7 linked regions of the Homo sapiens genome follow. The protein of the gene in region 1 interacts with the protein of each later gene in a pairwise test. Each region holds a gene or a part of one and is shown in the gene's direction. Other genes may lie near its edges. The genes, in order: PCNT, ST18, SRGAP2, ANKRD24, SEPTIN7, PARVB and SPTBN2.

Region 1 (3,500 bases):
GTTCACACACACACACATCCCTGTAACCTTCATAAGTAACCACCATTCACAGAGCACACAGCGATGGCCCCCCCAAAAAGAGCAGCAGGCATCTCCGCCTGCCACAGGCCCTGGCTCTCTCCCAGAAAGGTGTGTCAGTGGAACCAGCCCGTCTGGGACCTCCTAAACTGGCTTTTTTCACTTTTTGGGTTTTTTTTCTGAGACAGGGCCTTGCTGCATCTCCCAGGCTGGAGTGCAGTGGAGCAGTCACAGCTCACTTCAGCCTTGACCTCCCAGGTTCAGGGATCCTCCTGCCTCAGCCTCCTGACCTGCAGTGGTGTCAGCAGCAACCTGTGCACGTCCTCCCGTACACTCTTAAGTCATCTCTAAGATCACTTGCAGCACCTCATTCAGTGTAAATGCCACGTAAATAGTTGTCATCCTGTATTGTTTAGGGTGTAGGGGCAAGAAAAGAAGCACACGTTTGGTACAGACACATCGTTTTTTCTGAATATTTTTCACCCACAGTTGGTTGAATCCATGGATGTGGAACCCACAGCTGTCGAGAGTTGACTGTGCTTGTAGTTACCAGTGGTTGGCATTTCTAGGACCGGAGAATATGAGAGTGTTTAAGGCTTAAAGCTTTGAATTTGGGGTGATTTTACAAAGAATTGGTTTTCTGTTTCTGTTAAAATGTACCTTTTTTGCAATCATACTTCAGCAAGTGGCATGTCGTAATTACTCCATGTTAATTCTTTGGCTGATCACAGCACGGCGTAACCTAGGCCCTGCTGAGGGGGTGCTGAAGTTGAGGAGGGGCCAGGTGTGGTGTGGTCAGCCTGGCCTCCCCGCACATGGCCTTCTCCCTCACCTGCCCCCGGCTGCGTCTCTAAGATGCTCTTGTTGACGAGCAGCTCTGTAGACAGCGCTGGCTGTGCTTCCTTACAGAGGTCGGAAAGGTCTGCTTGGAAGCCAGACGAAACGGCTCCACAGAGTTCCCTGAGGCGCCCAGACCCCGGCCGGCTTCCACCAGCTGCCAGCGAGGAAGCACACACCAGCAATGTCAAGGTAGGAACGGTGCCACGAGTATAGAACTTTGGTGCTTTTTTAAGTCCTGGGTTTGCAAATTGCAGGCAAAGCATTTTTGTGACCACAAGGTTCTCGTCTGCCGGGTGTAGCAGTCACATCACTAAAGGAAAGGACGTTCACAGAATAAACTTCGGCTTGAATTTTGTTTTAATTGTGCACAAATACTGAGTTTCTGTGCTTGTTAAGCGTGGAACGTGGAAGGCTTTGACAAAGTCAGCAAATGGCGGCCTCTGCAGCCTGAGGGAGGCCTGGCCCAGGGGCTTGCCGGGATTCGGCCCAAGATCTGCTGCAGTCTCCTGATGGCACACGGTCCCCACCCCGTGACGTCCATCTCATGCCCAGTTTGGACCTTACCTAAGGGGTGAAATGCAAGAAGCTTCATAGGGGCTCATTTGATGATGCTGTGGAGAGGAGCTTGTGGTCCTAGATCTTGTCTGACAAACACAAATTGATCTTCCAACAGCAAGGTTGTTTCTGGCCACAGATACTGTTGGAAGGCCGATGGCTCTGTGATGATTTGATGGGAAAAAACAATCTGACTCTTTGGAAAGAGCAATGGTGTTAATGTGCTTTTGTCAGCAAGACAGTCTTTGTTTCCTATGATAAAATTTTACTGCTTTTTTTCTTTTAGATGGAAAAATTGTACCTGCATTACTTGAGAGCAGAGAGCTTTAGAAAAGCTCTGATTTATCAAAAGAAGTATCTTTTGCTGTTGATTGGTGGATTCCAGGATTCTGAACAAGAAACACTCTCCATGATTGCCCATTTGGGGGTATTTCCTTCCAAAGCAGAACGGAAAATCACATCTCGTCCTTTCACCAGGTTCCGCACGGCCGTCAGGGTGGTCATTGCAATATTAAGGTAAATGCCATGACGTTCAGTCAGTGCGTTCCGCGTCTGTCTCCGTGAGTGGGCAGCACACTGCATGGTTTTTTGGTCATTTTATTCCTTGAAACTCCATAATATGTTCTTTTTAAAGATGAATGGCATTTGAGGCCTTAGAGAAAATACAGATGATGAACTTGTCTTCAAGAAGTCATGTGTATGAATCTCTCACCTTCTAAAACTAAAGATTTAAGGGCACCTTTGTATTACAGAGGAACATCTTGACTTTTAATGGGTTTCGTGCCACAAAGAACGTGCTGAATTTCTAAAACTGTTTTTCCCCCTAAACACTGTGCGGCTGTGCCTGCTCCCTGATGCCACAGAGGTGTTTCCCAAGGCCACGCGCGGGCCTGTCTGGAGTAGCAGATGCAGCAGAGAGCAGCTAGGAATCCCGCTCCTTTCAGAGACCAGGTGCCGAGCCAGTTCAGTCATCGCGGCTGCAGGCTGGGCCAAAGTGGGGTGCAGGCGAGGCCTCCTGGGTTGCTGTACTCTCAGCTTCTCTGGTCCTGGGGCACTTTGTCTCCTCGTCTCTGAGCTCCCCTGACCGTAGGCCTCCACCGTCCATCCTTCCACCCACCCATCTGTCCATCCTGTGTTCATGGGGAGAACACCCTGCAGGAGGAAGCATTTTAGGCACTAGATAGGGGAGGTAAGCAGACCCAGATCCTACCTCCTGTCGAGGAGGGGAGATCTTTTGAAGGCAGTGGTGTCCCAGAAAGGAGCAGTCTCTGTGTCCCTGTGAGGGCACTGCCTAGGGTAGCTGCCACCAAGGGGCCTTGACAGGTCTTATGGAGGAATCGGCAGTGTCTGCTATGCCTCAAAGGAGGGAAGCCACAGGCATGATGCTTGTTCCGAAGGCCATCCTAGCAGGGCGTCTGGGGCCCTGCACACTGACCTGCATGCCCTCGTCACCTGCACTCTGCATGCTCACCATCTGACGGACTCCTGCGAGGGCTGGGGTCTCCGTGTTCTGAGCCTGTCCAGTGGCATCTGTGACAGGATGAAGATGGGAGGGTCCTGCACACCAGGCGGGAGCGGCATGTGTTTCCTAGTCACTGGTGTGGCCGGCTGACTTTGAACTGGAGTCGTCCTGAGCTGGGCCATGGTGGGTGTCTAGGGGACCATATGGTCCACGGTGGGGCCGCAGTGAGGCTTTGTCAGGTGGTTGGGCATGGGAAGGTCGCCGCCGCCGGCAGCCCTGCGAGCACTTTGGATGTGTGCACCCGGCATGCCAGGCCCGAGTCAACAGACTGGCCGACCTTGGCGTCCTGGTCCCCATGGGCAGCGAGGCCCCCATTCTGCTTGTTTGGTCACAGTGGGGTTTTCATTGCTCTTTCCCTTCCTGTCTTGCCGTACTTTTAAGTGTGTCTTGTCTCTTTTTTTTGTAGATTACGTTTTTTGGTTAAGAAATGGCAAGAAGTAGATCGGAAAGGAGCTCTGGCACAAGGCAAAGCCCCTCGCCCAGGTGGGACTCCAGCTGCTGTTGACCGCTGGACTCACAAACCTTTCTTTCTACTCTTGTTTTTCATTCACTTTGGGTCATTTTT
Region 2 (3,500 bases), on another chromosome or scaffold:
ACTTTTTTTCTCTTCGCACTAAATTACTAAGAATCTCCCGTGTTGTTTTTGGTGGGCATGTGGTTTCCTTTCAAGTTGTGCTTTTGGCGAGCAACACTGCTGTGTACACCTTATGCATGCTTCCTGTGTGCAACCATTTGTTTTGGGTGTGTACCTAAGGAAGAAATTGTAGGGTCATAGAGAATGTGAGCATCCACCTTCAGGAGGTAATGGATTATTTCCCAAAGTAGTCACCCTAGGAAAGTATAAGAGCCCAGATCTCTTTCAAACCAATTGTCAAGCCAAGTACCCTTTATCCTTCTCTCATGAAATTGCTCCTATGAAGTCTCTACGTGGAAGTTCACATGTCCTTCTTCATTGTCACCCTGGTTCAGATTCATTCTTCTAGGAGGTAAATTACCTCCAATCCTGCTTCCCGCACCCTTAATATTAACTACCTTCCCCAGGTCCTTGAAACCTTTCAAATGTAGTCATACTCCTTCTACAAAGTAATCATGGGAAATAACCCCCATTCACTGAGAGCCTGTGGCATGTTTAGCGCTCTACATTTTATTGCATTCATTCTCACAGTGTAGATAACATGCCTATTTTACAGAAGAGGATACTGAAGCACAAAGAAGATAAGTAAGTTGCCCAAGTTGCAGAACAGGAGTCAAACTCCCAAGCTGATGTCCTTCCCCCTAAATTACATTTTCCTCATCCATGTCCACGTGGAAGACTATGCCAATGTGTTTCTGGACACTAATTCACCTGCCAGCAGCCCCGCAGCTCTGCCTCCCATCATGGGTCCTAAGGTCTAATTCAACTAAACAGATATTTAATTACTCAGCATAAAACTGTCCTTGGAGCATTTTGAATAAGAGAATGCAAGGGCTTTGAGGTTTAATCCCAGCTCTGCCTCTTAATTTGAACTTGGGCAGGTTATTTAACTTCTGTCAGTGATTCTTGGGGTCTCATTTAACCTCTCTGGGCTCGGTGTCTTCATATGTGAGGAGGGTATAATGGAGCGTGTCCCACTGTAGGGTGTGGTAAGATGTAATTGAAGGCATATTTACAAATGGGTCTGGCAGCACCCCTGGGACATAACTGAGCTACATGCAAGGGTGGCACTTTTCTACTCCCTCTTTTCTTTCTTACCAATAAATTAAATCTGTAACTTCTCTTATCCACTTTTTCAGAATCCTAGATATGCATTGTTTTGGTAAAAACACTAAATGAAAGTCTCATTTTCAAGTAGCAAATCACAAATTAAACATATAATGACTCATTTGTTAACAGTTTTCAGTTTGAACTAAGGTAGTCTTACTCTTTACAGGAATAGAGAGTGATGAAGAAATTAGGCATTTGGATGAAGAAATAAAGGAACTGAATGAATCCAACCTTAAAATTGAAGCAGATATGATGAAACTTCAGACCCAGGTAAAAAAAAGAAGTAATTCATGATCCTTAATGTAATCATAATCTTTGGTGGAAACAAAACATTGAAATTTTAAAACTTGTGTGAAAATATATGGTAACTTAGAGTCAATATGCTGAGTGTTTCTAGATTCCATAATTATTGTAAAATTCTGAATAGGTGGATCATCCCAGGTTACCATTTATTCAGTAGCTCTGGGCAAGCTTTCTCATGTTTTTGCCCTGGTGGCATCGAAGTTTTTATAAGCAAACAAGGCAGATCATCCTATAACCCAAGAGTCTCTGGTGCATTAGAAAAAAAATGTGATGGAAAGGTAAGAATCCTTGGTTTTATTCAAAATTCAAGTAAAATATAGCAACTTTTTGTTTAATGTTTTTGGAACACCTCTGAATGTGTAAGTATTTATTAGAAACAGATCTTACTGAATATTTTCTTGAGCAAATTCTTTACCTAAAAGCCCAAGCAATTTCTCAATTCTGCATTCTTCTTTGTGATGTCTGCCTCATCTCCTGGAAATCAACAGTTCAGTCCAAGATTTTTAAAACATGAATCATAACTCTCTTGCAACAAGTTAGCAGCAAAAGAATGAGACAGAGCATACGACTGTCTTTCTCCCCTTCCCTTCTCTCCTCTTCTGAAATGCAGGATTTTTATGCCACCATGGTTACTGGATCTCTTGGAAGTCCTCACACAACAGCTTAAGACAAAGGGTTTTAATCCATCTGAAATTTAGGTTTCCTTACCCAGAGTGACCATTGTTGCCATCATCAATTTAATGGCCATCTGGTCCACAGATTGATACTTTTGTCTAGAAATCATGGGAATTCCTCTAGAAAACCATTAGCAAAGAACACAAAGCCCTCTGCCCTCCTGAGACTTATAGTCTAGAAGGAGGAAGCAGACAATAAACAAAAAAGTCATAAATGATCAATGGTGTTGTATGCTAGAATGGCAGGGGGCTGGGCGAGTGGCTGTATTTCAATACTAAATAGGACCACCAGCCCCCAGGAAGAAGAAAGCCATCCACAAAGACTTGAGGAATGAGGGAGTTAGCCAAACAAGTATGGAGAAAGAGTGTTTCAGACAGAAGAAACCCTGCAAGCGCAAAAGTGCTCATCATGAGAAGGCCTGGGGATTTCAGAAATAGCAAAGGGAAGTGTGGCCGCAGGTGAGTGAGCTGGGTGGGGCAGGTCACAGGAGAACAGTCTCAGAGACAACAAGGCAGCTCACACGGGGCATCTTAGGCCATTTTAAAGACCTTGGTTTTTATTCTGAATGTGTGCAGAACTGTAGCACAGTTTTGAGCTAACGAGTAACATAATCCCATCTGATTGACATGCTGACTTGCATTTTAACAGGCTCATCTTGGTGGCTGTGTTGAGGAAAGGCCAAAAAGAGATTAGATGGGGTAATGGCAAACACAAGGCCACCCACGAGAAGGTAGCACAGTCACACTGGTGGCTGGGCCCAGGGGGCAGCAGAGTGGAGGGGACAGTGGTCCCATCCTGGATATTTTGAAGGAGGAGCCAGTGGAGGTGAGGTATGAAAGAAAGAGCCATGGGGGGTCTGCACTACAGTTGAGTTGCTGCTGACTGGAAAAGGGAGACAGCGGATGGAGCAAGTTTGGGGAAAATAGCAAAGTTTACTTTAAACATGTTGAGTTTGAGATATCCATCATACAGCCATGTGGAGAAGTTCTACAATTCATGAGGAAGTCTGGGCTGAAGATGAAAATTTGGGGATTTGATTCCAGCACTTCAAACAATCCAGTGGGGCTGCAGCTTCATGCTGAGAAGTTACACGCATGCATCTCTGCATCTCTTAGTATTCAGATGCACTTGGTGCATTTTCCTTCAGGGAGAAACCTTTTACACTCCTTCCAAACTCCACTACTCACATTCCCAAGTTATTTCTGTTGTAGATCACATCTATGGAGAGCAACTTAAAGACGATAGAGGAGGAGAACAAACTCATAGAACAGAACAATGAAAGTCTGCTGAAAGAGCTGGCAGGTCTAAGCCAAGCTCTCATTTCAAGCCTTGCTGACATCCAGCTTCCACAGATGGTAAGTTCAAGGCCAGAA
Region 3 (3,500 bases), on another chromosome or scaffold:
TGAGAAAATGTGTTGTGTGGTACTTGGCATAAAGCCAGGAATATACTAAGTGCTCAGTAAATGATAACTGGCATTGCAGTTGCTGTGAGAGGGTGTTTGATCTGGATAAAGCAGAACAGACAGATCCCCAGAATGCCAGGCCGGTAAAAGGAGCTTTTGGAAGCTTTTCCTCTTCCCTATTTTATATCTGAAAGGTAACAGAAAGCATAGGCTACTCCATAGGCTGCACTGCCCTCTTCGGGGTTCCTGACCAGCCCAGAAAGGCTTTGCCCTTGGGGCCTGAGAGTGGTGGTGTTGTTTCCCATCTACTCAGTATTATGAGGTGACTAAGTGATAGAAATCACCTGGCCAATATTAAAGAGAAATGATTACAAATGATAATGAATAGAAATAAATAATACATGATGGATAGACATTAAGTTATTTCAATAAGAGGAAATGTTGGCTCAGTTCACATATTGCTTTCCTGTGCTTTGGAGTGGTCTTTAATCTGTGTTTGCTGAACCAAACACTTCTGGATTTTTCCCTTAGGGGTGTGAGGATATTGCTTCATGGGGGAGAGCTCCAGCTGAGTCTGTTAGTCTGTAAAGCAGAGAAATGACCCCCTTGGCTTGACCTCTGGGGGTGGGGGTGGGCGATGTCTTGCAGGTGATGAAGACATATCACATGTACAATGCCGACAGCATCAGTGCTCAGAGCAAACTAAAGGAGGCGGAGAAGCAGGAGGAGAAGCAAATTGGTAAATCGGTAAAGCAGGAGGACCGGCAGACCCCACGCTCCCCTGACTCCACGGCCAACGTTCGCATTGAGGAGAAACATGTCCGGAGGAGCTCAGTGAAGAAGATTGAGAAGATGAAGGAGAAGGTATGTAGGCTCCCACAGCTGTAGATGCTGGGAAGCAACATTCGGTAAGGCATGGCTGATAGGAATTTCCCAGTAGTCACTGGGAAGAGCAGACGAGGAAGCTCTGGGTTCTTTTAGTGCCTAATGACTGAAAATGAGGCCTTGCTCTGTGCCCTGGCAGGAATACTAGGTATTGGAAGAACTGGGCACGTGGGATCCAAGTTTCTAGCCTCTAGCAGAAAACCAAGAAACAGCAGTCACCTTTCCCAATCCATTTTCCAAATAGAGCTCAATATCCTATTGCTTTGGAGGGGTTGGGGGTGACTGTAAACCCAGGATTTGGTTTCAGGTATCAGGTGTTCAGGGGCAAGAGTAGTGGTACCTCCTTCAGAGTGGCATTGCAAGAATGAAGAATGATATTTGAAGATAGAATCAAAGTGGGGCACGCATCTTAAGTAGGGAGCCTCATTAACCTTTCCTGAATTGATCTACATTGTGCCCTTGAATCTCATTAAACAGAATTAGAACCCAATTTAAGGCAGATGCGCATAGGGAGTAGCAACACAATTGTAGTTCTTGAATACACTGTACTTTTATCTTTTAGAGAACAAGCCCCCCTTAAAAAAAAAAAGGTAAAAGTGAACTTCTGTTTCCTTTTCAGCGTCAAGCCAAGTACACGGAGAATAAGCTGAAGGCCATCAAAGCCCGGAATGAGTACTTGCTGGCTTTGGAGGCAACCAATGCATCTGTCTTCAAGTACTACATCCATGACCTATCTGACCTTATTGATGTAAGTGCTTAAAGCCAAGGGCCTGAGGGCACCTCTTTTCTGGTTTCAGAATACTCGTCAGACATTCCCCGATACTATTGTTCAGGAATCTGGTGCATTTTGAGAACAATTAGGAAGATAGCAGCCATGATCCATCAGGGTGCTTGCCAAGCACCAAGTGAAACACTTCACACTTATTCAATCCTAACTGGAATTCTGGGAGGAAGGCATTATTATCTATATTTTTACAGATTAACAGAGAGTTTAGATGACTTAGTCAGAGTCAGTTAACAAATGACAGAGGCAAAATTTGCACCTAGGCCTGATGACTCAACCCAGGCTCATAACCACTACACTCGTCTATCTGCCAGGAAATACTTTCTTCCTTTTTTTTTTTTTTTTTTTTTTTTTTGAGATAGAGTCTTGCTCTGTCCCCCAGGCTGGAGTGCAGTGGTGCAATCTTGGCTCACTGCAACCTCCATCTCCCAGGTTCAAGCAATTGTCCTACCTCAGCCTCCCCAGTAACTGGGACTACAGGCATGCATCACCATGCCCAGCTAATTTTTGTATTTTTAGTAGAGATGGGGTTTCACCATGTTAGTGAAGCTGATCTGGAACTCCTCACCTCAGGTGACCTGACCTCAGGTGATCCACCTGCCTCGACTTCCCAAAGTGCTAGGATTACAGGTGTGGGCCCTGCACCCGACCTAGGAAATACTTTATTACATCAGCTTCTCTTGCACAGAAGTGAGTGGCAAGAACTTAACTAAAGAGTTACAATGCCATCCCTTATATTTGTATAGCATTTAAGGTTTCTCAGTGTTAACTCATTTGACTCTCACATCACCATTATGGGTAAGCATTGCTGTCTCCAGTTGCTAGATAAGGAAGCTCAAGGTCCAGAGGACTACGAGACTCACTTGTCCAAGGTTATGCTGCAAATTAGGGTCCTGTCAGGAAGGTATCCAGCTCCCCCTGACATCTGGCCCATTTTTTAAAATATGTGATGCAAAGGGGATTGAGGAAAGCGGCTAATAGGCACATGTGTTTTGCAAGGGGCAAGCGCAGGGATAAGCTTTTTGTTTTTTGCCTGTGAGTTATTCTTGGCCTTGTTTTTCCTGCTGCTTCCCCTTACAGTTGGGTCTTACAAGCCCTCTCACCTACAGACTCCAATCTGGCCCAGGTCCTGAGCCACACCTAAGTGAAGCTATGTAATTACACCCTTTCTCACCTCTCCTTCCAGTCATCAAAGTGAGGCATCTGGAGCCAGCCAATTTAGCATCCCAGTCTCTGGGGCTTCAAGTGTATCTCATCTCGGAGGCCTGCCATTTGTTTCAGGGTCTTGTTGGCAGCAGTTGGGCTTTGCAAAACTCTGGCCCGACCACTCTTGCTTTCCTGCCTTGGTTTCTCCACAAGCAAACCTGCCACACCTCACAACATCATATGGGATTTGGGTCCGAGTCTTGCTGTTATATCACCACCTGGGTCATCTAGGCTTGTCACTGAATTGTTCTGAAACCCAGCTTTGTTTCTCACCCACTCCCAAGCTCCTCTAGCTAACTGAAGAACTGGACTAATTCCCTGGTATTAAAATCTGGCCTCACGTAAGAGTTGCTTGGGGAACTTCTCTAAAATACAGATTCCTGTCTCCCTTTAGCCGAGGATTTTTGATTCAGTAGATTTCAGCCACTTAATGCCCTAGGTGTCATTGTCTCACTGGGTTAGTAGAGCCTTGCTCCCTGTTCTGGTACCTCTTTGTTCTCTCTGCTTATTGATGACAATCTGAACACTGTCCTTCAATGGAGGTCAGAGCCCTAAACAAGATCCTTTCTCCTCCTCAGGGGAAGAGCTCCTCATTGTTGGGAGAGAGGCCTGTTCTCAGCATAAG
Region 4 (3,500 bases), on another chromosome or scaffold:
GGGAGGGGCTCTGGCTGAGACCTGGGATGGGGCAACCTTAGGCCCCATCTAAAGGCCGTGGTGGGGAGGGGAACAGGATGATCGAGATGCCTATGAGGAGATCGTGAGGCTGCGGCAGGAGAGGGGCCGCCTCCTGCAGAAGATCCGGGGCCTGGAACAGCACAAGGAACGGAGGCAGCAGGAGGTTAGGAGGCCTCGGAGATTTGGGCGTGGGCCAGCCTGGGTGGGGTCAATGCAGGCATGAAGATCCCCCTACTTTTCTCCCACCTTCCCTCCTCCATCTCTCTCCCTCCCCACCCTGCTGCAGCCACCTGGGCCTCCTCGCTGTTCCTCCAACTCGCCAGGCGCAGTCCTGCCTCAGGGCCTTTGCACCACCAGTGTCCTCTGCCTGGAATGCTCTAGCGCAGTCCTGCCTCAGGGCCTTTGCACCACCTGTGTCCTCTGCCTGGAATGCTCTAGCCCCAGATGGCCCCACAGCTCTTTACCTCACCTACTTTATGCAGTAGGCTCCTCGCCAAAGACACTTCCCATGCCCACTTCCCATGCCCACTTCCCATGCCCACTTTCTTCAAAATTGTAACATCACCCCCCACCACCCCCCCGGCCAACTCGCTAGTTCACTTTATTTTTTTTTTATTTATTTTTGGTTTTGTTTTGTTTTTGAGACGGAGTCTCGCTCTTGTTGCCCAGGCTAGAATGCAATGGTACGATCTCGGCTTATTGCCACCTCCGCCTCCCGGGTTCAAGCGATTCTCCTGCCTCAGTCTCCCAAGCAGCTGGGATTACAGGCGCCCACCACCACATCCAGCTAGTTTTGTATTTTTAGTAGAGACGGGGTTTCAGCACATTGGCCAGGCTGGTCTCTAACTCCTGACCTCAGGTGATCCTCCCGCCGCGGCCTCCTAAAGTGCTGGGATTGCAGGTGTGAGCCACCGCACCCGGCCTCTTTATCTCCATTTGCATCACTTGCTGCTATTGGGCATGCATCTGTTTTATGTGTGTCCACCCATTTGACTGTGAGCCTGCGAGGGCAGGCATGGCTGATGGTGCCTGGGTCACAGTATGGGCGTCGTCAATATTGATTGGGTGAGTGAATATTCAAGTGAGTGTATGAATGAATGGCCAAAACCAGGTCTGCCCCATAAGAGGCACCCAGTAAAAACTTTCTGGCTGGGCACGGTGGCTCACACCTGTAATCCCAGCACTTTGGGAGGTTGAGGTGGGCAGATCACTTGAGGTCAGGAGTTCGAGACCAGCCTGGCCAACATAGTGAAACCCTGTCTCTACTAAAAATACAAAAAAAAAATTAGCTGGGCATGGTGGCAGGGGCCTGTAATTCCAGCTACTTGGGAGGCTGAGGCAGGAGAATTGCTTGAACCCGGGAGGCAGAGGTTGCAGTGAGCCAAGATCACACCACTGCACTCCAGCCTGGGTGACAGAGCAAGACTCCATCTCAACAACAACAACCACAACAACAACAAACAAAAACAATCTTGTTGAGTGAATGAGTGGATGGAACGGTGCCTGGCATACAGCAGGTGCTTAATAAGTACATAGTAATTGTCCAGAATGGTGCATACTGGCACACACAGCAGGCACTTAATAAATACTTAGAAATGAATGACTGGTCAGAATGGTGCATGCTGGCACACAGTAGGTGCTCAATAAATACTGAGTGACAGGTCAGAACAATAGCTGGCACAAAGTAGGCACCTAATAAATAGGAATGAGGCCGGGCGCGGTGGCTCATGCCTGTAATCCCAGCATTTTGGGAGGCTGAGACAGGCGGATCACGAGGTCAGCAGATCGAGACCATCCTGGCTAACACCGTGAAACCCCGTCTCTACTAAAAATACAAAAAATTAGCCGGGCCTGTTGGCGGGCGCCTGTAGTCCCAGCTACTTAGGAGGCTGAGGCAGGAGGATGGCGTGAGCCCAAGAGACGCAGCTTGCAGTGAGCCGAGATCACACCACTGCACTCCAGCCTGGGGGACAGAGTGAGATTCCATCTCAAAAAAAAAGATAAATAAATAAATAAATAGGAATGAATGAGGCTCAACATACAGCAGGTGCTCAATAAATATTTAGTAATGAGTGAGCAGGCAGAATGGTGCCTGGTACACAGCAGGCACTCAATAGTAATGAGTGAGCGGGCAGAATTCAGTAGGTGCTGAATAGTTGCACGTGGAATGCGTGAATGTGCATGGAATGGAGGCTATGAAGCAGGAGGTGGGGCAGGGAGGCCTCTTGCCCAGATCCAAACCCCTGTCCCTGTTTCTCCCGTCAGTCCCCGGAGGCCAGCTCCCTGCACATCCTGGAGAGACAGGTAGGTGGGAAGGTGGGGAGGAGCCGGTCCTCCTGCTGCCCAGCCTTTCCTCCCAGAGGCAGCTGAGCCTCCACTGCTGCTCCCAGGTGCAAGAGCTACAGCAGTTGCTGGTGGAGAGACAAGAGGAGAAGGAGAGCCTGGGACGGGAGGTGGAGAGTTTGCAGAGCCGGCTGTCCCTGCTGGAGGTAGGAGCAGTGATGAGTCAGGGCTGGGCTGGGGCTGGGTCGGGGAACTTCTCTCCTACAGCAGCGACAAGACAGTCACACCAGTGCATGCACAGCCTCACACACGTGCAAACACACGCACCAGACACATGCACCCACAAACCCACAGTCTTGGCTGGGTGCGAGGGCTTACGCCTGTCATCCCAGCACTTTGGGAGGCCGAGGCGGGCGGATCACGAGGTCAGGAGATCGAGACTGTCCTGGCCAACATGGTGAAACCCCGTCTCTACTACAAATACAAAAATTAGCTGAGTGTGGTGGTGCGCGCCTGTAGTCCCAGCTACTCTTAAGGCTGAGGCAGGAGAATCACTTGAACCCGGGAGGCGTAGTCTGCAGTGAGCTGAGGTCGCACCACTGCACTCCAGCCTGGGTGACAGAGCGAGACTCAGTCTCAAACAAACAAACAGTCCCACAGTCACATGCACCCATGCACATTTACAAATGTGCACAGACACAGAAAGGACCTTCCTTTCTTCCCCTTCTCCTTCCTTCCTTCCCTCCCTCCTTCCTTCCTTTCCTTCTTTCCTTTCCTTCCTTCCTTCCCTCCTTCCTTCCTTTCTTTCCTTCCTTCCCTCCCTCCCTCCTTCCCTTCCTTCCTTTCCTTCCTTCCTTCGTTTTCCTTCCCTTCTTTCTTCCTTTCCTTCTTCCTTCCCTTCCTTCTTTCTTCCTTTCCTTTCCTTTTCCTTCCTTTCTTCTCTCTTTCCTTCTATCCTTCCTTCTTTTTTTTTTTTTTTTTTGGACAGAGTCTCGCTCTGTCACCCAGGCTGGGATGCAATGGTGTGATCTCGGTTCACGGCAACCTCTGCCTCCCTGGTTCAAGCGATTCTCCTGCCTCAGCCTTCCAAGTAGCTGGGTCTACAGCTGCACGTCACCATGTCCAGCTAATTTTTGTATTTTTTGGGGAGTGGGGAGGATGGAGTTTCACTCTTGTTGCCCAGGCTGGAGTGCAGT
Region 5 (3,500 bases), on another chromosome or scaffold:
CTTTGTTTTTCACCTTTTTCAATATGAATTTCAGAATACCTTGAAACCTGTTATAAAAAGCCTGTTAAAATTTGCTTTGAAGTTGTGCTAAATTCATACTAATTTTCAGAAAGTTTTAGTACATTGTTTTTACTGTATCTAGTATTTTTGTGTTTTACACTTACCCATTCCCATTTTTGTTTTGTAATGTGCTATTTCTAAGTTTCAAACACTATCATATAATACATTTCTTTTTGTTTATTATGTGTTTCGATTTGGATTTTTACTGATAAAGGTAAAAAAGATGAATATGAAGTGACCTCTTCTTTCAAATTGGTCACATCCTGGTGGTTGTACTCAGGTCATTTTAATATACAACCTCTGACTAAAACCATTGCTTTTAGAGCTAGCTACTATTACTCATTTTTCTCGTCATCATGTATTTGTCAATTCCTTGTTTATTCTTTTTTTTTTTTTAAATATAGGTACGTACCCTAATTGTAAAAGAAGTGTGGTCCTATTTTTTTTCAGTGACAATTTTACTTCTGTTTACTTCTGTCTACTATAGTAACCATGTAACACAATTTGTTCAGGGTCCTTTTATAGCTGCTGGGAACCTTTGCCAAGAAAGTTGCACCAAAATATAAGTATAGACAGGGAAGCTAGGTTTAGGTATATTAGCCATTGGTTTGTTATGGGTTCAAATAAGGATAGGTAGTTGAAAATTATTTGGATGTCTGTATTCTGTTTAGAATTGGAGTGATTTTGAACATGATAATTTAATTTGAACTAGGTCATTTCTGATGTTAATAATAAGTTGTCTTCTCTAGGTTTCTGCATTCTCCTTATTAATTCTTGAGCTTCTTAATTTCTAGGATGTGTTTTCTCCCTGTGTCCTTCCCTAATCTTACACCTGTTGCTCCTCAATTTGTGTGTATGCACATGTACATGTAAGGATTTTTCTGATGAATGTTCAGGGAGCAGTGCTGTACTTAGTTTTACCTTACTTTTGCCAGATTCTACTAAAAATTTTACGTGAGTTTAGCCCTGTTTATTCAACTAAATAAGATACTTGGGAATTTATATCTAAAGGAAGAATCTCAGTCATTGTAAATAAATGACCTAAAGTCATTATTGTGGAAATCAATCAGAGAAATCCCTTTCTGGAGTTTTACATCCTTTTTGGAACTCTTTTGGTATGACAGCTATATGACTTTAACACTTCGGAAGTAATTGGATTTGGTGTTTATATATCAACTTCATAGTTAAAAAAAAAAAAAAGACTAGCGTAGTACTTTAATTTTAGATTACAACTTTGCATCATTAAAAAACAGTAAAGGATCTGGAACCAAGGACCCATATAGGAATCGAAGAGGCATGTAATGAACATAAGACTAATATACTAATTATGTATGGTGCTCTTTTGCTGACTACTTCTTCCATTTTAGATAATGAAAGAAATCCAAGAACATAAAATTAAAATATACGAATTTCCAGAAACAGATGATGAAGAAGAAAATAAACTTGTTAAAAAGATAAAGGTAGGTTCATCCCTGTACACACGCTAAAGTAATCTGAGGCCTTAAAAACATACTACAGCGTCCACAGGAAAGATCAAAAGTATCAGTGTTTTAAGTAGTTGGCTTACAAAATACCTAGGGAGATTTAATGTTGAATTCAACTTTATAGTTAACTTTGAAGATTAGCTAGTATATATAATAAGGAATTGTATAAACTACTGAGGTGAATAACACAATTCTTATTTCAAAGTGTTTTTAATTAACTGGCTTTCATATTATGTAATTTTTTTCTCTTAAAAAACAAGTGATGAGAAAGGAGAGAATTCGTTCTGTTATGTTTTAATTGCCAGACAAAAATGTATTTATTTTGTCTCTATAAAAGCCAACCAAAATTACAGCTAGATAGGAGGAGTAAGTTCTAGCGTTCTGTAGCATTGTAGGGTGGCTGTAGTTAACAGTAATTTAGTCTATATTTTCAGATAGCTAGAAGAGGATTATGAATGTTCCCAATACAGAAAAATAAGTTTGAATTGATAAATATGCTAATTACCCTAATTCAATCATTACATATTTGTATAAAGTTATCAGAATACCATACTGTACCCCACAAATGTGTACAATTATGTTTCAATTAAAAACAATAAAAACCAACCAAAAATTCACATCAACATATTTTCTGTATTTTATCATGGTTTTCTATGTACTTTGGCCCTAAAAATGGTATACTGAATAATGGCATTATGTAGGCAAATATCTTGGAATAATGAAATTCTTATACATTGCCTGTGAAGAATTTCTGCAGTTGTAAATAGCTGCTTAGGTATTTCTGGGAGCCACAGAATTGTGAAGGGCTGAACATGGATGAACACAAATCCAGTCACCAGGATTTGAATTTCCAAAGTTAGAGCTTAACAAATATACTATTACCTGGTTTAGGTACTGTTATAGTTGGTTTGTGATCAAGTAGGCAAGCTAGTCATTAGCCCCCCGCTTTTTTTCCCCCAAATGCCAATATAGTTTTTACCTTTTATCCCCCCCCAGGTATGGGACAACTTTCTGTAGTGATTTTTAGTAAATAATTTGACCAGTATATGCTTGAATATTCTTAACATTAAAGAGAAAATTTAATTTTATTTATTGTTTACCTTGGTGGCAATACCATGTGATGGCAGTTTACTAAATATTTGTTAAATGGCCTATAAAAACTAATGCAGAAACTATCGAAAGTAAATTTTTTTTTTTTTTGGCTAACCTGTTGAGTAATGTAACTTTTTTTATTTTTGAATTTGTGAGGACTACAGAGATGTATTTGAACAAGAATACTTTGTTTTATAGGACCGTTTACCTCTTGCTGTGGTAGGTAGTAATACTATCATTGAAGTTAATGGCAAAAGGGTCAGAGGAAGGCAGTATCCTTGGGGTGTTGCTGAAGGTAAGATTTTCTTCAGTGAATGACTTTCTAAAATATCTCAAAACTGATTAAAAATTTGTATTTATAGTAAGTAGTACAGTATGCACACTGTATTGATATAGTCTAGATTTTCAAGGATAATACTGATTTCAGGTTCTTGTAGTCTCAATTTTCTCTTTAAGTACATTGGTATTTTTCAAACCTGTATCCTACCAAGTCAGGCAAGTGTGTGTTAAGTCCTAAAGTTGTAGTATAGGTTGAACATTCTTAAAGAGAAAATTCAAAATGTGAATTGCTCCAAAATAAAACGTTTTGAGCACTGACATGCTGCTCAAAGGAAGCGCTCACTGGAGCATTCTGAATTTTGGATTTTTGGATTAAGGATGCTCGACCAGTAAGTATAGCACAGATATTCCAAAATTCCAAAAAAATTCAAAACACTTCTGGTCCCAAGCATTTCAAATAAGAGATACTCAACTTGCCCCACCCTGGCTGGCATCCTGCCTCATCATTAAGTCTATTTCTGTTTTCATATTTGAAAACATAACTAAAATTGAGGGGTTCTTTACCTGGGGCCCAAAGTTTGCTCC
Region 6 (4,052 bases), on another chromosome or scaffold:
TCCTCCTACTTCTTCAAGGCTGGGGCTTCTGGCTGTGAGCATCTCAGAAATCTGTTTGCTTTTCTCCTAAGTCACCGTCCGCCTGCCTGTGCCTTCTCTGTCTCCAGCACCTGCTGAGCAGCCATCAGCCAGAGGCAACATCTGTGACATCACAGCTCAAAGCCCTGCCTGGGTATCTAGGCTGGGCATGGTGGCTCACACCTATAATCCCAGCACTTTGGGAGGCCGAGGCAGGCGGATCACCTGAGGTCAGGGGTTCGAGACCAGCCTGGCCAACATGGCAAAACCGCATCTCTACTAAAAATACAAAAATTACCCGGTCGTGGTGGCGTGCACCTGTAATCCCAGCTACTCAGGAGGCTGAGACAGGAGAATCGCTTTAACTCAGGAGGTGGAGGTTGCAGTGAGCCGAGATTGTGCCACTGCACTCCAGCCTGGGCAACAAAGCAAGACTACGTCTAAAAAAATAAAATAAAATAAAACAAAACAAAATAAAATAAAATAAAATAAAATAAAATAAAATAAAATAAAATAAAATAAAATAAAATAAAATAAAAATAGCCCTGTCTGGCAGTCCTCGGGATGAAGCCGTTTCCTCTGCTTCCAACACATGCGAGGCCTGTCTCCCCTCCTCTCCCCTCCCTGGCACCCCACACTGTCCCCAGGGCCTGCTCTTCTGCTCACCTCATGGTACCGGCCTGCAAGCCATTTCCTGGGGCCTCCCCGTCGCCTCTTCCAGAAACAACTCCTGGAACTCCCCTTGGAGGTCAGGCCAATGACCTGTGCCCCGCATTGCCCTCCATCCTCTAAGCTTCCCGTGGGTAGGGACAATTCCCAGTTCTGAAGGGCTCCCCCTGCCCCGGGCCTGGCTCTTGGCAGAAGCTTAACAACAGACCGGCCACGTTCGTGTGACCTGATTCTCTCCGGCTTTCAGGACGTCCTGAGGCTGCACCCACGTGGCAATGGTGTCTGTCGCGCTGTCGCCTGGATCCGGCACCACTAGCGGAGCCGAGCAGAGCCCAGGGCTCCAACGCGTAGGGAAAAGGCTGCGCCGCTCCCGGGGTGGCCCCACGCCCCTTCTCTGAGCTTGAGCGGCGGCGCGGGACGGGGACGGCTCTGGCCGGGACCAGCAGGCCTCGGGCATCCGGGACGCCGGGGCCGCGCTCCAGGCCAGGGGCGGGGGCGGGACCGGGGCGGGGGCCGGCGGCGGGGCCGCGCCCTCGGCCTCTCCCCGGGGCGACCGGGCGGCTCCACACGCGCTGCGCCCGCCGCCGGCCCCACGCGCGGCCCATGTCCTCCGCGCCGCGCTCGCCCACCCCGCGGCCCCGCAGGATGAAGAAGGACGAGTCGTTCCTGGGCAAGCTGGGCGGCACCCTGGCCAGGAAGCGGAGGGCGCGCGAGGGTGAGTGCGCGCCCGCGCCCGCCGACCCCCGGGGACCTGCCCGGCGGTGCCCGCCCTCGGCCCTAGAGCCCCACGAGGCCGCCCCCGCCCTCCCCCACGCACCCCGCCCGGCCCACGCGGCTGCGCGACCTTCGGGACAGGCCAGGCCTTTGACCCAGGACCCGTAAACAACGGCCGGGACCTGGCGCGTGGGGCCGCGGTGGCCTCCGGAGTCTGCCAAACGCGCGTGCGGGCGCCTGCGCGGCGGGGACCTCGGGCCACCGTGCGGGGCCCGCGCCTGCTCTGCCTGCCGGGTGTTCAGCTCTTCCCTGGGCCAGCGGCATAGCCAGCCGCGCGGGGTGACCGTTCATTCCATGAGCAGTGACGCTCACGTGTGCAGGGCACTCTGGGCAGACACGGCCTGGGGGACCCACTACTGGGTGTTGCGCGGGCGCCCTGCAGGGTGCGGGGCTCAGGGCGTGCAGGGCTGAGGCCTGGGAGGCCTGCGAGCAAGAATTGCAGAGATCCCATTAAAAATTTTTTTTTTTAAATTTTTTACTGCGTGTGCTCACGAAACACTACCAACCTCGTACGTTTTAAAGATTGTTAGAGTTGCAAGGGATAGTCTGGTGTCTTTAAGTGTACCGCTTGCCCAGGGCCTCCTGGGAGATACATTCTGGAATTTTCTGCTTGGGTGGGGAGGTTCTGCCCCGGGACCATGCCCTATAGTGAGATTTCGGATTGGTGAGAGGTGAGGGGAGCTGCTGTGGAAAGGCAGATGGAGAAAGGCCGGCCTCAGGTGGGTCCCCGGGAAGGAGCCCTCCCATAGCGGGTATGCAGTACGGTTTCCTTAAACCACCTGGGCCTGACATATCCCCTGGGAACTCTTCCTGTGCCTCCAGGGATTAGTGTACCCCGGGATGCAGGTCCCCCATTCATTTCTTCCCTGGGACTCTTGTATTCCTAGGGATGTGTGTGCCCCGGGAAGACATATGACAGATTTGCCTCTAGGCATGTGTGTGCCCCCATGCACCTGCTCCCCAGGATTTTTGTACAGTGCAGGGAACGCTTGGTTCCCCAGACATTTTCTCCCAGGGATGCCTGTGCCCCCAGGGATGCGTGTCTTCCCACCCGTGATCCTGTTCCAAGAGGGCAGGGTCTTGTCCCCTTCAGTAGGTCTCCTGGCGGATAGGTCACTCTTCTCTCAAGCCTTACACTGGAGGACCCACTGTAGCTTGTATTGGTCGGTGTTGGTCACGTCTCCTAAATGACATGATTAGTGGCTGTCACCCTTCTATCATCCCCACTGTTCTTCCATGCAGTCATCAGCACCCTCACCAGAAATCATTTCGGTTCCTCTTTATGGCTTGCAACGATTATAGACGCAAGTGACGCTCCCCTCCCAATTCAGCCCACAGCCTGTGGAGCGCCCGCCATGGGCCAGGTGCTGCTTAGACCCCAGGAAGAAAAGAGCGGGGGCGGGGTGCTTGCTTTCGTGGAACGGGGAATGAATACATAGACAACTGGCGCTGTGATGACGTGCCCCGGAGCACATAGAACAGGGCGATCAGAGCCAGGGGAGGCCTCTGAGGAGGGGACACTTGAGTGGAGGCCAGAAGGAACCAGAGGAAAAAGTCTTTCATAGAATGGCAAGGAACCGGAATGTTCTGGGCTATTGCAGCTTTTTCTAGGTGCCGTTTACGCTCTCGGAATAGGAAGAACACACACCCAAAGTAATGGACTGGGCCCAAATTCCAAAGTACGCAGTGCTTCTCCTCCTTGCCTGTATGAATTGATGTGTGTCTAGAAAATTCAGGCCCAGCCTGGTTTAATTCAAATGCACCAAGAATTCCGGTAGCAGGAAGCATCCTGTGCTGAATAGAACGGGCGTGGAGGCAGGAGGAGGAGCAGGACGCCGGGCACTGCTGATGCTGCTTTCGCTGGGGGTGAGCTGGGCGCCCTGCCTCGGTTCTCAGGGTTGGGGTGCCTGGCAAACAGAGGGCCACAAACCCTCCTTGGATCTAGGCACAGGAATTGAGGGACAGGCTGGATTGGGAAGGGTTTAGCGGCTTCTGTGTGGTCTCCTGGGAAGTGGAAGAGTCAGGAAGACTGGATAATGAGGGCTTGAATAATTGAGAGTCGCTGGTATTTCCGCAAGCCCATTTGCCTTGGCAACATGCGCTTCTGCCACTCCAGGGTGGAGCAGCCCCTGGCCCTGACTTTGGGCCGTCAGAGCTATGCTCGGTTGCCTACCAGGGAGTGACAGGGCGCTTGGGAGGTTTCCACGACCCTGCCTGCTGCACCGTCGGCTTCATTTCCTCCTTTGTTAGAAAGTTGAGGGTGGATTTGGGAGAACGGATGTGGCTCCGACATGTTCCTGAGTTGAGGACTCTAAGGGAGGAGGGGGAAGCTGGGGGAAGGGGCGGGCTCATCGGTGAGGTTCCAGATTCAGGCAGGGGTGTGACAAGGCACGGAGGGACTTTTGGGAGGGATGGTTGGGATGAGTGACGTGGCCTGTTCCAGAGGAGAGGGGTTAGGAAATGTGGGGCCCTGGGGTTTGGAGGAAGCAGTGCAGGAAGTGTCTGAGAATGAGCTTCACGGTGGGCGTGATTAAGGCTGATGTGCTACGGGAGGCGTGTCACGTGGTGGCCTGGGTCAGAAAAGGGAACTG
Region 7 (3,500 bases), on another chromosome or scaffold:
TTACCATGTTGGCCAGGCTGGTCTCAAACTCCTGACCTCAGGTGAGCCACCCGCCTTGGCCTCCTAAAAGTGCTGGGATTACAGGTGTGAGCCAATGCCCCCAGCCAACTTAATGTCTTTTTTTTTTTTTTTTTTTTTTTTGAGACAGAGTCTCATTCTGCCGCCCAGGCTGGAGTGCAATGGCGAGATCTCGGCTCACTGCAAGCTCCGCCTCCTGGGTTCACGCCATTCTCCTGCCTCAGCCTCCCGAGTAGCTGGGACTACAGGCACCCACCACCACACCCAGCTAATTTTTTGTATTTTTTAGTAGAGACGGGGTTTCACCGTGTTAGCCAGGGATGGTCTCGATCTCCTGACCTTGTGATCCGCCCGCCTTGGCCTCCCAAAGTGCTGGGATTACAGGCGTGAGACACCGCGCCCAGCCAACTTAATATCTTTTGTGCAGCTTCCTCATCTATGAAATGGGGACAACAGTGGGCCCTCACCCCACAGGGAGTTATGGTGACGTGATGCATGTCAATGGCAGGGATATGTCACAGCCGACATTTATTGAGTACTTACTAACATTCTCTGTGGCAAACCAAAGGAAACAAAGCGGAGAGAAGCATACTGTGTCCTCCTTTGAACTCCTGGGCACTTGCTAAACAGTGTGTCAGTCTTCCTGGCGTATCATAACTTTTTCTTAACTCAAGAGCAGAATCTAGGTCTTTTTTTTTTTCTACTAGTCTCGCTCTAAGGTGCGCCCAGGTTCAAGCAATAATCCTGCTTCAGCCTCCTGAGTAGCTGGGATTACAGGCGCCTGCCACTACGCCCAGCTAATTTTTTGTATTTTTAGTAGAGATAGGGTTTCACCATGTTGGTCAGGCTGGTCTTGAACTTCTGACCTCAGGTGATCCACCCACCTCGGCCTCCCAAAGTGCTGTGATTACAGGCGTGAGCCACCGCGCCCAACAAATCTGGGTCTTTTTCTCTCAACTTGCCTACAGGGTATAGTAGGCCATCTTGGGTTGATCATGGGCTCAAAACAGTTTGTAGAAGGAAAGAATGCCACTTTCTAGTCATTATTGCCTGTGGGGCCCCATATGTGCTGCCTGCATTACCCTGGGCTGCACACTGCTGTCTGAAGCACTGAAGCCCATCACCCCTTTCTTCACCCCGCAAACCCGTCCCTCTCTGGCCCGAAGTCGTTGGAGCCTTTCCTGACCACCGCATTGCTCTGAGCTGCTGCTGCCTTCCTGCTTCACTTTCTGTGCTTCTGATGTATTCCCGTCCCCAGGCTTCCCAGGTGGCTTCCCCTCTTCCCCTGGGGGCTGATTTCCACTGAGCAGCCAACCGCAGCCTCTGGCCACAAGGAGAGCGGAGCACAGGTAGGGCAAGAAGACAGAAGGCCCCGGTGGTGAGTGGAGGGCTTGGTGGTCCCTGGACACCCCTCACTGGCCACATTCTCCTTGCAGGAGCAGGAAGCCGCCTACCACCATGAGCAGCACGCTGTCACCCACAGACTTTGACAGCTTGGAAATCCAGGGCCAGTACAGTGACATCAACAACCGCTGGGACCTTCCTGACTCGGACTGGGACAATGACAGCAGCTCGGCCCGCCTCTTTGAGAGGTCTCGCATTAAGGCTCTGGCAGGTGAGGTCAGAGGAGGGTCGAGGTGGGGGGATGCTGGAGGAGGCTTTGTCAGCTCGTCATGAAGAGCCCTTTAACTTTATGGGAAGACTGACTTTTCTTTCTAAGTGGGAGACCCAGAGCACTCTATCAATTCCCTGGTCCCCACATCCAGCCTCAAGAATAGGCTCCAGGCCATTCAGAACTTTCCCCAGCTCTTCCCCCCAAGCATAGAGACGCTTCACTGGCCCCTGGACTGGCTGAGCTGACTAAAACAGCTTCCCTCTCTGGCCTCAGCCCCCGGGTCATGTCCCTTCATCCTTCGGCACTCTCGCTCTTGCCACTCCTTTCTCCGCCTACCTCTCCCTTACCTGTCATGCCCTTGTTGTGTCTTCTTTGATTTCCACTGTCATTTCCCACACCTGTTCCCAGTCTATTATTCCCCTCTGCTCCCTCTCCACCTGTTCCTTCCACCTGCCACCTGTTACTCCCATTATCTCATCTGCCTGTTCCCTGAAGCAGGTTCCCTCCACCCGCTGCTGCTGGTTTCTGCAGCCGCCCATTCTCCCTGGTGTGCTCTCTGCCTGCCTTGGCTCCTACTCTTCCCTGCAGCCCAGGGCCTGGGCTCTCCGCTCTGAGCGGAAACTCGTCCAACGGCCTCCCTGTCTTCCGGGGGAGGAGTTGTCATGGCAACAAGAGTGCGGCTGCCACCTGACACCACCAGTGGCTGGCATGGGGCTGACTCACCCACACACCCCAAGGCCACCTACCCCGTCTGGCTTCCTCCTCCATCCCACTCTTGTCATTGCCATTGACCTGCTGGCTGCCCAGCCCAGCCCAACCCAACCCAGTCTGAGGGGTCCCAGCTACTCTCACCGAGAGGTGGTGCTCCGAGTGGGGGTGGGGGTTGGCCACTAGAAGAAGAGAGACTCCAAGGGGGAGGTTCCCAAACCTGGCCACATGTTTTACAGGATCACCCAGGGATGTTTTTTACAAATACAGGTTTCCAAGCCCCTCCCTAGACACAATAAGTTAGAATCTTGGTCCAGAACTCAGGATTTTTCAAAAGCTCCCCAAGTGATTCTTTTGAGCCAGCTCAGCACCAGTCTGAGGACCCCCTTGTGGCAGCCATAGCTTCCCAGGACCCCTTCTCATTTTCTCCTGGGCCTCTCTGTCCTTCTGGTTGGGTCTTCAGGCCGGCTGTGAAACACTCCTACCAGTGTGTCTATACATCAGAGAAGACAGAAGGTGTGGGTTATGGAGAATGTCATGTTTGGGGAAAATGTTCCTGGCACTCTGGTTTTGGATTCATGTAGCCTCTAGAACTGTCATGATGTCTATGTGTGTACAACATGTGCCACCCACCATGTTTGCACACATGACAAATGCCATCCAGGACTGTCACCATGCCTGTGTACATAGGACACATGCCTCCCAGGACTCTCACCATGCCTGTGTACATAGGACACATGCCACCCAGGACTGTCACCATGTCTGGCTGCACATAACTTGGGCCACCCAGCACTGTCACCATGTCTGTGCACACATCTGTGTGACCTCGTGCTCTCATTGGGTGTTTATCTCCACCACTGAACTGGGCTCTCCTGAAGAGGCAGCTCTGCATGGGATTTGCCTAGCACTGTGTCTCCAGCCAGTAGGTGTCAAATAAACACTGAATGAATGAAGATGAGGAAGGGCAAGTGTAGGCTGCACATGACAAACGCTGAAGCCCAGAGGAAGGGCGCCTGGTATATGTGCCCAGCAGCGGGGCGTCTGGGGGCAGGGATGGCCTGGTGGAGGATGGCCCTGGTGGGCCAGAGGGCAGGGAAGGGGCTGGCACTGGAGGTGGTGATAAGCAAGTGGAAAGGATGGTAACAGCCCTCGTTTCACA

The links.
Region 2: the proteins of PCNT (region 1) and ST18 interact in a two-hybrid assay, tested with the Homo sapiens proteins (one large-scale study listed by BioGRID and IntAct).
Region 3: the proteins of PCNT (region 1) and SRGAP2 interact in a two-hybrid assay, tested with the Homo sapiens proteins (one large-scale study listed by BioGRID and IntAct).
Region 4: the proteins of PCNT (region 1) and ANKRD24 interact in a two-hybrid assay, tested with the Homo sapiens proteins (one large-scale study listed by BioGRID and IntAct).
Region 5: the proteins of PCNT (region 1) and SEPTIN7 interact in a two-hybrid assay, tested with the Homo sapiens proteins (one large-scale study listed by BioGRID and IntAct).
Region 6: the proteins of PCNT (region 1) and PARVB interact in a two-hybrid assay, tested with the Homo sapiens proteins (one large-scale study listed by BioGRID and IntAct).
Region 7: the proteins of PCNT (region 1) and SPTBN2 interact in a two-hybrid assay, tested with the Homo sapiens proteins (one large-scale study listed by BioGRID and IntAct).

The regions. Positions count from the first base shown.
Region 1 is NC_000021.9:46,439,156-46,442,655, forward strand, and holds part of PCNT (pericentrin), read left to right. Parts: intron 1-927; coding exon 928-1,047; intron 1,048-1,699; coding exon 1,700-1,929; intron 1,930-3,341; coding exon 3,342-3,418; intron 3,419-3,500. UniProt on the Homo sapiens protein: Integral component of the filamentous matrix of the centrosome involved in the initial establishment of organized microtubule arrays in both mitosis and meiosis. Plays a role, together with DISC1, in the microtubule network formation.
Region 2 is NC_000008.11:52,116,257-52,119,756, reverse strand, and holds part of ST18 (suppression of tumorigenicity 18 protein), read left to right. Parts: intron 1-1,315; coding exon 1,316-1,419; intron 1,420-3,338; coding exon 3,339-3,482; intron 3,483-3,500. UniProt on the Homo sapiens protein: Repressor that binds to DNA sequences containing a bipartite element consisting of a direct repeat of the sequence 5'-AAAGTTT-3' separated by 2-9 nucleotides. Represses basal transcription activity from target promoters.
Region 3 is NC_000001.11:206,392,041-206,395,540, forward strand, and holds part of SRGAP2 (SLIT-ROBO Rho GTPase-activating protein 2), read left to right. Parts: intron 1-648; coding exon 649-864; intron 865-1,504; coding exon 1,505-1,633; intron 1,634-3,500. UniProt on the Homo sapiens protein: Postsynaptic RAC1 GTPase activating protein (GAP) that plays a key role in neuronal morphogenesis and migration mainly during development of the cerebral cortex. Regulates excitatory and inhibitory synapse maturation and density in cortical pyramidal neurons.
Region 4 is NC_000019.10:4,210,189-4,213,688, forward strand, and holds part of ANKRD24 (ankyrin repeat domain-containing protein 24), read left to right. Parts: intron 1-76; coding exon 77-184; intron 185-307; coding exon of another isoform or gene 308-502; intron 503-876; exon of another isoform or gene 877-1,062; coding exon of another isoform or gene 1,063-1,086; intron 1,087-2,286; coding exon 2,287-2,325; intron 2,326-2,411; coding exon 2,412-2,510; intron 2,511-3,500. UniProt on the Homo sapiens protein: Component of the stereocilia rootlet in hair cells of inner ear.
Region 5 is NC_000007.14:35,881,057-35,884,556, forward strand, and holds part of SEPTIN7 (septin-7), read left to right. Parts: intron 1-1,427; coding exon 1,428-1,520; intron 1,521-2,834; coding exon 2,835-2,931; intron 2,932-3,500.
Region 6 is NC_000022.11:44,023,050-44,027,101, forward strand, and holds the start of PARVB (beta-parvin), read left to right. Parts: upstream 1-1,252; 5' UTR 1,253-1,290; coding exon 1,291-1,402; intron 1,403-3,254; exon of another isoform or gene 3,255-3,327; intron 3,328-4,052. UniProt on the Homo sapiens protein: Adapter protein that plays a role in integrin signaling via ILK and in activation of the GTPases CDC42 and RAC1 by guanine exchange factors, such as ARHGEF6. Is involved in the reorganization of the actin cytoskeleton and formation of lamellipodia.
Region 7 is NC_000011.10:66,719,217-66,722,716, reverse strand, and holds part of SPTBN2 (spectrin beta chain, non-erythrocytic 2), read left to right. Parts: exon of another isoform or gene 1-1,276; 5' UTR 1,277-1,367; intron 1,368-1,454; 5' UTR 1,455-1,476; coding exon 1,477-1,633; intron 1,634-3,500. UniProt on the Homo sapiens protein: Probably plays an important role in neuronal membrane skeleton.